Regions from separate parts of the Homo sapiens genome. Here region 2 is linked to region 1. Evidence: fine-mapped expression QTL. A gene starts in region 1. The other region holds a variant in brackets. All regions are shown on one strand. Distances are between the middles of the regions.

Region 1 (5,379 bases):
GTTTCTTTTCTGTGTTTAGATATATTTAGATACACAAAGACTTAACGTTGTGTTACAATTGCCTCAAATTCAGTATATGCCGTACAGGTTTGTAGCTACAGGCTATACCATATGGCCTAGGAGTATAGTCAATTATACCATCTAGGTTTGTGTAGGTACAGTCTATGATGTTTGCACAATGACGAAAATCACCTAATGATGCATTTCTCAGAAGGTATTCCCATTGTTAAAGCGACACTGGACTGTATTATATGTATTACCTATATTCTACCAATGAACTATCAAAAATTAAAATTTAAAAGATTCCATTTACAATAGCATTTACAAACCCCATAGAATACTTAGAAATAAATTAGCAAAAGCTGTGGAAGATCTATGCACAGACAACTGCAAAACAGTTGCAAATTTTCTCTTAAAAAGCCAGATAGTATGAGGTTGGTACAAAAGTAATTGCGGTTTGAAAGTAATGGCAAAAACCACAATTACTTTTGCACCAGCCTAATAAGTAGCATAGCCTTTGTGGGTCACGTTGTCTGTGACACAGACTCTTTGTGTTTCTGTGTATTCTGCTGCAACTCTTTAAAATTGTTAATAGGATCCTTCACTCACTGGCCTTACATGTAGGCTACAGGCTAAATTTGTTGGCCCATAGGCTGCAGTGCTGACCCTTGCTGCGAAATATTTCTAGGAGAAAATACTCAAGACCTAAATCTATGGAGATATATATCATCCCTGTGGCCTGGAAAAGTTAATATTGGCAAGTTGTCCATCTTGGCCAGGACCCTGAAAGATAGTCTATGTTATTGTAAGAAAGATTGGTGTCCTTGGGGGCATGGGCTTTTAAGCCAGGGTGGAATCTGCAGAAGTCTGAGGTGCCATTTCCTGTCCCTATACCTGGGAGAAAATAGCTCTCAGACAGCTGTGTGGCTTTCTGCAAAGCTCAATTAGAAGAGAAATTATCAGGCGTGGTGGCGCATGCCTGCAGTCTCAGCTACTTGGGAAGCTGAGGTGGGAGGATCTCTTGAGCCCAGGAGTTCGAGGTTGCAGTGAGCTGTGACTCCAGCCTGTGTGACAGAGTGATACGCTGTCTGGAGAAATTCATCATGGAGATATGCTGATAATTGGTGGTCCCTGCCTACATCCTCCCAGGAGACTGAGCCAGACCCGGTGTGGCCAATGGTCCACTTATAAATTGAACCATGTTAGACCTCCTAACAGTGCAAGTACTCATTACAGCTCTGACATGGTGCTAAGCACCCCAAGTATTATAAACAAGTGTAATCCATTATGCACACACGGTGAGGCTACACCAAAGTCTGGTGGTTAAATGCATGATCTGTGGAATCAGACAGCATGGGTTCAAACCCTGGCTGGGGTGAGATGGGGAACTTTCTAAGGCTTAAATGCTGTTTTACCAAATATTTTAAAAGAAGTGAAAATACACTGCCTGTTAGAAAGGGAAGTTTTGGGGTGAAGCATGTGGGCAGTTTAGAATACCTGGTGTCCACCTCAGAAACCATCACAGCCCAGATGTTATAGGTTCAGGCCTTTCCAGGGCGGGCACATAGAATGTCCTCGCCTCCAAGGTTTGGAGAGCTGCGCTATAAAGGTTCTTGCAGGCGGTGTCCTGAGCCCAGAGCTGCCTGCAGGCGGGCAGGAGTTGTGGGGGTGTTGGCATGATCTGGTGTCCTCTGTGGCGGCTGCCTGAAAAGAAGAGGCCGAGGGTTCTTTGTCCTATGTCTCTCCGAATCTTAATACCTGCCCTGCAGCAGACTCCCTGGCTGCCAGGGCACACCGGTCACCCCGGTAGACGGTGCCGCCCCGCCCTCGCCAACCCCTTATCCCAACTCCCATTTCCAGCCTTCCAGGAAGCCCGATCCCCACCCCCGCACCATGTGAGCTGCTCCTCTACTCCGCGTAGGGGAGGCTCTGCCTCCGGTGACCCCGAGGGAAAGAGCTAGAGCACCCACAGGTGCTGACTGCTGCGGCGCTGAGGACGCTGCACACCCGTTCACCGGCTGACCCAGTGCTGCTGACAACCAGCGTCCGCGGCCCCCAACCGTCGAACAGAGCGCGTGGGACCATCTGGTGCCAAACGCCTGCAACGGAGTGCAGAAGGTCACGAGGCGCTAGAGACCGGTTGGGGGCAGGCGGTTGGGCCTTGACGCTCTTTGCTGGGCGTCGTTTTTTCTTCTCGCCCCCTTCGCTCCTGTGCGCTTAGTGCACAAGCCCTGGGCTCACACACCCTTTCTCTGTCACGTGTTCCAACAGCATCTCACCTGCATCGGGCTGAACAGGAGACCTCAATTTTCTCCTCTACTCCAAGGATTCGCCGGCTCACAATTGCTCTTCATATCTTCAGCAAGCTTTGTCTGTGCCCTGCCCCTCTGTCCCCCATTGCCTACCATACCCGCTCCCACCAAGCCTGCATCACCTCGCTGTCTCTGTGCCTCTCCCCGGCCCCCTTCCAGGCCTTTCTCCCACAATTTCTGGTCTTTGCTCCTGGGTGTTCCGTCGACCCTAAGAGGCGGTGTCTGATCTGGCAGGCTCAATGCCTTTCTCTGGCGCTGTCTGCACCTCCAATATATTCAGTGACTCAGGAAGGATCCATCCTGCAGGGCCCAGATAGACTCTCCTGTTTGCCACCTGAGCAGAAAGGCACCTCTGTGAGGTCTTTGCCACCCAGTCACCCTACCAGACCCAATCAGCACGTGGGAGACGTGGATGACAGGAGGACAGAGATGGAGAGGGACCAAAAGACTACATGGGGCCTTGAAGGATGTCATAAGAACGTTGCCTTTTACTGAGAGATGGGAACCATGGAGGGTTTCAAACTGCTGAGACTGGCATGATATGACTTAGGGCTTTTTTGTTTGTTTGTTTGTTTGTTTTTTCTTTTTTGTGACGGAGTCTCAGAGTCTTCCTCTGTCATCCAGGCTGGAGTGCAGTGGTGTGATCTTGGTTCACTAGAACCTCTGTCTCCCGGGTTCAAGACATTCTCCTGCCTCAGCCTCCCGAGTAGCTGGGATTACAGGCACCCACCACCACGCCCGGCTAATTTTTGTCTTTTTAGATGTTTTATCTCAGAGAAAGAGCTTCCATGTTCTCTAACTCTTGTAAACAGGTATTCTTCAAGAAACTTTACAATATAACATTCATACACAGAAGTGTACAAATCATCTGTCTATTCCTCAATACATTTTTGCAGAATGAACAAACCTATGTAATCTAGATCAAGAAGCAAAACACAGGCACCTCAGAATCAACCTCATGCTCATTCCTAGTCACTATGCCCCTCCCAAATTTTTAACATTATAGATTAGTTTTGCCTATTTAAAAACTTTATATAAATGGAACCCTACCATGTGTCCTGTTTGTGGCTGTGTCTTTTCATTCAACACTTCATAAAATTCATCCATGTTGTTGCTTTTAGCAGCACTTTATTCTTTTATATTGCTGTGTGATGTTCCATTGAACAAATATAATTTACCCATTCTATTATTGATGGATGTTTGGCTATTAGAAATAATAATGCTACTGTGGCTAGGTGTAGTGGCTCATGCCTGTAATCCTAGCAGTTTGGGAGACTGAGGAGGGAGGATTGCTTGAGACCAAGAGTTCAAGACCAACCTGGCCAACATAGTGAGACCCCCATCTCTCTTTAAAAAAAAAAAAGAAAGAAATAATGCTGCTGTGAACATTCATGTGTATGTTTTCGACTACTTCTGAGGTAGGACGCAGGACTCGACTCCAGAGCCGGGGCTTGGACACTGGAGCAAATTGAGGACTAGCTAAAACAGGGTCAGGGTGGAAGCAGCTTTCCATCAGACACACCCACCAGTGTGCTATGTCAGTTTACATTTGTCATGGCAACATGCAGGAATTACTGCTCCTTTCCATGGCAATGACCCAATGACCCAGAAGTTACTACCCTTTTCCTAGAAATTTCAGCATAAACCACCCCTTAATCTGCATGCAATTAAAAGTAGATGTAAATATGACTGCAGAACTGCCCTGAGCTGCTGCTCTCTGCGCCCTGCCGATAGAGTAACCGTGCTCTGCAGGAGCAGTCACAGAGCTGTAACACTGCCTCTTCAATAGAGCTGTCTTCTTCCACCACCAGCTCACCCTTGAATCCTTTGCTGGGTGAAGCAAAGAACCCTCCCAAGCTAAGCCCCAATTTGGGCTTGCCTGCCCAGCATCACTTCCAATATCATGGAAATTTTCAGTGATGCCTACTATGAGGTTTATTGCTTAACTTTTCACATTTAGCTCTGGAATTCTCCTGTCGATTTGCATGTCTTTTGTAGATTTATTTCATGTTTATTGATGCTACTATAAATCCTCTGAAGGGATTTACCTTTGGATGTAGAAGGCAGCTAGGATGGGAAAGCACACTTTATTCTGAGATTAATGTAAGTCAGAGCCATGCTTCACTCTTTTTGAAGGCTGGCTCTCTCCTGTTATCCTTATTTCTGGGATACTGGCTTTCAGACGTTTTACATGAAAACCTGAGTATTTTTTGGGGACCCTCTTCATTGGCAGGTCCTGACTCTGAATTTTTTTCTCAGCAGCCGCTGAAATTGCTGAATTTTACCTCCAAAACTTGATTTGAAAAAAACGAAGCAAAGGTAGAAAGAATATCATTCTAAAATCATTGTTTTATAAACAGATTTTGCTACGTAGATGCAATTGGCCATAATAATGGCAGAGAAGGCCAGATTTTCTTTCTAACTGTTATAACAGTTTTTAAACATGAAAAAGGTTCATTTAGAAAACAATGTTAAGGTAGGGGCACGGCAGAGAATGGGAAGATGGTCAGCCGGGAGGAGCAGTGCAAGAAGAGAGCAAAGACACAAGCACTCTTGTGTGCAGAAAAGGCATGGTGAACATAGGGGTAAAAATCACTAGCCCTTCTCGGAGCAATTCCAACATTATCTGAAGGAAAGTCCATGGACCATGAGAACCCCCCACCTTCTGAGACACATATATCTGGACTGTGGGACTTTGACCCATGTTGGATCAGCCAGATCCCCTCTCCCTGGAGCAGTTTGTCGGCACAGGAAGAGAACAGCTCAGCCCTTGGAGAGAGAGTCACTTATGGGTAGGATGCCCTGGCTTCCTATGGCTGGCAAGTGTGAAAGTTGATTATATAAATTGAGCCATTCTTGTTATACCCAACTAAAACAGAATTGGAAGGCCAGGAGGAGAAAACACACTCAGGGCACGCCAAGAATGTAATTCTTTGCAAGCCTAGCTGCTGAAATTGCCTGCTGTAACCCAAAAACGGTTTTATGTAGTAGCTTCTGAAACAACCTGCCGGACTCTATGATTACTTTTACCCACTGCTATCACTTACCAATCAGAACTTGCCAGCTC
Region 2 (5,379 bases), 17 kb before region 1:
GTGGAGCCAGCTCTGCTGGAACTAAGTACCCACAGTCCTGAACAGTTCCCACGTAGCATGGGGCCCCATCCAGTGGCAAACATCTGCAACTAGCAGGTGGAAGTTCCAAAGGAACAGCCAGAAAGTCTCACTGGGGAAAGGCCCCTGGGTTTCCACCTTTGCCCTGTGGTGACTTTCCTTCACATCCTTTGCAGTGCACCCTCTGTCATGTAGCCCAGGGAGGCATCACAAATATCAGGATGAAGAGTGCATGGTTTGCCTTGGAAGATTAGGTAGCTAGGAAGCATCTCCAAACTGCATTCTACATCCTCAGTATCAGATAGGTATGCCCTGCTTTTCAAGGGCAATGCTTTTAGGAAGCTTCTCCCCCAGCCTCACTGAATGCCAGTCCCCTGACTATCACCCCACTGGTTCATCCAGACCACTGTGCTCCTCCCTCACTTCTACAGATACCTCAGTCTTCACTGACTAACTGATATGGTTTGGCTCTATGTCCCCACCCAAATCTCATTTTGAATTGTAATCTGAATTGTAATTCCCATGTGTGGAGGGAGGGACTTGGTGGGAGGTGACTGGATTGTAGGGGTGGTCTCCCCCATGCTGTTCTCATGATAGTGAGGGAATTCTCATGAGATCTGACGGTTTATAAGTGGCAGTTTCCTCTGCACTCTCTCCTGCCACCAAGTACGACATGCCTTGCTTCCCCTTTGCCTTCTGCCATGATTGTAAGTTTCCTGTGGCCTCCCAGCCATGTGGAACTGTGAGTTAATTAAACCTCTTTTGTTTATAAATTACCCAGCCCCACATAGTTCTTCATAGCAGTGTGAAAACAGATGAATATATCAACCCATCATTAACTGGCCAACCTTATCACTTCCACTGCCCAGTCAGCCCATCTGCAGACTTGACCTCCCAGCCTGCTTTGAACCTTTGAGATGACCGACATGGACACTACTATTCCCTGGGTCTCATCTCCTGGTCCCCCCAGGACCCAGGGTTAGCCTGGAAGACTCAAGCTCTGGGCTAGGTTTCCTCTGGTCTTGGAACTCCCATTTGACTGGCTCATTGCAGTGTGGAGTGGACAGCCCCCTGCAAAAGGCAGTCCCCACTAACCCACCTATGTTTATGGTAAACAGCCCTACCCCACTTTGAACCTTTCCTTTAGCCCAGAAGCCACCTCTCAGTCACATTTGGAGCTCCTAAAGGGCAGCAGCAAAGAGTCAGTCTTCTAGGATACCTGTCTGCACCATCATACTTATCACTACTTCAGCAATTGTCTGTTTTCTAGTAGCTAGGACCTTGACCAACTGGGCAGCCAAGTCTGCCTTTAACTCTGATGAAATCAATATGGTTACCATGTCCTCTTTCTAGCCTCCCCCTGGCAGGATCCCCCAATGTATTTGATAGCATTTACCCTTTGAGAAACGTAAAATCTCAATACAAGCTCTAAACTGAGCCTTTACTGCAGCCCAGACACCCAATGGGAGCATAATGCCATCAGATTTTGCGTACGTGTTACCTCCATATCCATCTTTGATATCTCTGCTAGCACCCACTCAGCCTTGGGTGGCACCTCGGGTCCTTTTCCCATTTGCACAGCCACTACTTCTAGCTCTGGAGCCATCACTGGATGCTCAGCATCAGGCACAGTTCACCTTTTGCTAACCCCTCTCTCGACCCATTTCCATTCATGGACTCTGGGGCTTCTTTGGATAATGACAGCTCTAGGACCAGTGTGTCTGCCCCAGACCCAGCTCCACATCTGAAGCACTCAGCTTTAGAACAGGGCCTAGAGGGGCATGCAGCACCTTAGTTTATGTTGGGGAGGCTTACACATGAGCACCGGGGTTCCTGCAAGCCTACAGCACCTCTGGTACAGTTGGAGAGGGCAGTACTACTGAAAGCAAAAACTCCTGGGAAACACTTTCCTCCCTGCCTACAGTCAGAGCAGCTGGGGCCTGTCCTGCCAAAGCACACCTCTTAGAACATCACTGAGAAGAAACATGTTCCAGAAGGCACCTCTGTTCCTTCTTGTGTTCATAACACCTGGAAACCATCTGGCCAAAGCACGTCTGTTGTGGTTGGAGGAGCCCGCACATACCAGTGCTTGGGACACTTCTGTCTTGCAGACAGACCACCTGGAATGCAGCTGGCCAGAGCACATCTGCATCCCTCAAAGGGAAGGAGAAAGCAGCACATCTATGCTTGGAGGCCTTTATGTTTCCACCACAAGCAGAGCACCCTGTTGCACCTTTCCAAGCACCTATGTTGCAGTAGCAGGGGACAACACACTACCTGTGACTGCAAGTCTTCTCTTCTTGTGTCTGGTCAGAGCGCTTGGGGCCCATATGGCCTGGGCAAACCTGTTACTGCTGGAGAAGCCTGCACAACAGAGAAGAAACATGTGCCCCAAGATACTTCTGTTCATGACTTCTGTCAAACGCCTTTGGACCACTCAGCTTGAGCACATCTGTTTCTGTTGGAGGGGCTGGTGCCATATCTGTGACTGAAGAAACTACTGTTTATGAATACAATCAGAGCATGTGAGGGCCATAAGTCCAGAGTATAGGCAGTGCAATGCCTGCAATGGGAGGAGATGGCACCATACCTGTAATGGGAGGAGATGGCACCATATATGGGTTTGTTTGGGGGGGACACTTCTGTTCATGAACACAGCCAGAACACCTGGGGTCCACAAGTCCTGAATTCAGGTGTACAATGGGAGGAAACAGCACCCCACCTGTGCCTGCAGAAACTTCTGTCCATGAATAGTCAGAGAGCCTGAGGTCCACAAGTCCAGAT[T/C]AAAGATGGTGCAATGGCAGGACACAGTCCCACACCTATGCTTACTCGCGAATACAGCCAGAGTGCCTGGGTTCCACAAGTGAGGATTCAGATGGCAAGTAGAGGGTACAGTACCATTCAAGTGTTTGGGTACCCTTCTCACCATCATTCAGAGCAACTGGGACACTGGTGGCTGGAGCACACTTGTTGCAGTCAGATGGGAGAACATGTTGAAGAAGATACTTCCATTCTCACCTTCAATCAGAACACCAGGGGCCTAAGCCAGGGTACCTTCCCTCTTTCATTTTGGAGAAAACAACATCACTGAGAAAATATCTGTGCTTCAGGACCTTTTCCACCTGCTTTTGATCAGGTCAAATGTGCTTCTGTGGTGGGCACGGCAAGCACAGCCTCGTCTTTGGGGCACCCTCGGCACCTGCACAGGGATTCTTTGGGGACAGAAGCATGCAGCATCACCCTATTTGTTTTCTTCTCATGTAAGACTTAGGGTCCTCAGTGACCAAAAGCAAAAGCTTCCTCTAGAAATGGCAGGTGACCACTGTTCCCCATGATTTGATCTTGTTCTGCTGGGAGCAGTTTCTGCTCCTTCTAGTTACGGCAAACAAGCTTCACCTGCCCTTTGTCCTTCTAGCACAAACTGGAAGCCCAAGACCCTGGGGTGTTTGTGAATGTGTCCAAGGACTTGGGTTCAGATGAGCCAAGTCAGAAGTCGACACACTAGCCTAAGATGTTCACCTGTGGAGAGAAGAGAGAGATGGGTGAGTATCAGCCGTGCAACACTACACTCTAGTTTCAGTGTTATCCTGGAAGACCTAAGCTTTGGGGGGGTTTCCTCCTGTCTTGGAACTGTCAGGACACCCACTGCTATCTATGTCTGCCATGTTTCCTCTGCTCATGTGTTTTTGCTCTAACTCAATGATGGAGAAAATACTGACTTGTATAAGCCATGATTGTTGAGCCAGGCTTAACTGTGCAAAGTTTCTGTGGCCCAGGGCCCAGGATCTAGAACATGGAGTTTAAATGTCTTTTTTGCTTGTTTAATTTAGTTGTATGCCAGTAATTCACACACATTCACAATTTTTTTTTTGGCTGCAGGGGGTTGTGGGGGAGAGATGGGGATCTCATCATGTTGCCCAGCCTGGTCTCAAACTTGGCTCAAGTGGTCCTCCCGCCTTGGCCTCCCAAAGAGTTGGGATAACAGGTGTGAGCCACCACGTCCAGCAACATTCACACTTTCACCTATGGATGATTGGCTTGGCAATCAGGCTTTTGGGCCTGGAGGAAAAAAGGAAGAAAGAACTCACGCATGACTGCTCCGTAATTTAAAAAAAATTTAAGTCTGTTAGGATGTAATAGATTACATAGATATTGGTATCATGTTGCTTTGACACATTACAAATGATTATCTTTTAAGGTAAATAGCAGGATAGGTTCTATTTGGAAAAATAACTGGTCTATCTCGAGTCCTAACCACAAAAATATCGTCACAAGATTTATAATTTCACACAGACTTGGCTGACCTTGGAGTTGTACTGTGCTGAAAATACAATCTTTTTAAAGTATTTTACAACCCATGAAGGTATCTTAAGATGGTGGAAAGAAAAATAAAGTACAAGCATTTCCTTCAGCTGCTTACAGATTACAGTTGTCCCTTGAACAATGCGTGGGGGTAAGGGGTGCTGCTTCCCCCACGCAGTCCAAAATGTCTGCATGACTTGTGACTTCCCCAAAACTTAACCACTAGTAGCCTACTGTTGACTGGAGGCCTCACTGATAACATGAACAGTTAACACATTCTGTATGTTATATGTATTATATACAGCATACTTACAATAAGCTAGAGAAAAGAAAATGGATGAGTGGATCATCATAAAGGTTTCATCCTTGTCATTTTCATGTTGAGTAGGCTGAGGAGGAGGAGGAGGATGAAAAGGAGGGGTTGGTCTTGCTGTCTCAGGAGAGGCCGCAGTGGAAGAAAATCCACATGTAAGTGGATCTGTGCAGTTCAGACCTGTGTTGTTCAAGAGTCAATGTATTATATTAAACAGTGCTAGGTCTTGGTGATATAGAATTCAAAGATTTATCTCTTGCAGCCCAGCAATTTACAGTATAGCAGAGAGAGACAGATAGATAAACCAAATATTACACCTGGAAAGATAGTGGTGGCGATACGGGAGTAGGTAAGAAGGACATAAAACTAGGTGTGAGAGAGATGGAAAAAATAAAAAATAATAAAAAAAAGAAGAAGGAAGAAGTGTCCAGGCAGAGAAAGGCTATTTGGGGGTCAAAGAAATAGCATGCTAAAAGTCAGGGAAGACTAATCTGTGTAACAAACCTGCACATGTATCCTGGAACTTTAAATTCAATTAAATTAAATTAAAAGTCAAGGAAGAAAGAGATCATGACCCTGTGGGACACCAGGCAAGTAATCAAATGTGGTTGGAGAGTGAAACCCAAGCTGGGAGATGTGGCTGCTGTGTTCAGCAAGTGCAGATCATGGACAAACAGACATACCATCAGGGGGCATTTGTCCATTATCCACAAAGTATGAGGAATCGTGAAAGGATAAGCAAAGAA

What was found.
Region 2: its variant is fine-mapped to the expression of LINC01801 in whole blood (TOPMed, PIP above 0.99).

Annotation. Positions count from the first base shown.
Region 1 is chr19:34,830,833-34,836,211 of GRCh38, forward strand. LINC01801 (long intergenic non-protein coding RNA 1801) reads right to left here and starts at 2,037. Exons shown (of 6, transcript NR_033982.1): 1 at 1,893-2,037; 2 at 1,498-1,704.
Region 2 is chr19:34,813,954-34,819,332 of GRCh38, forward strand. It overlaps LINC01801 (long intergenic non-protein coding RNA 1801), which reads right to left. Exons shown (of 6, transcript NR_033982.1): 5 at 4,634-4,813; 6 at 2,201-3,537. Among named protein-coding and RNA genes, the nearest start is that of LINC01801, 16 kb to the right of the region's middle. The variant T/C (reference allele first, on the strand shown) is at 2,803.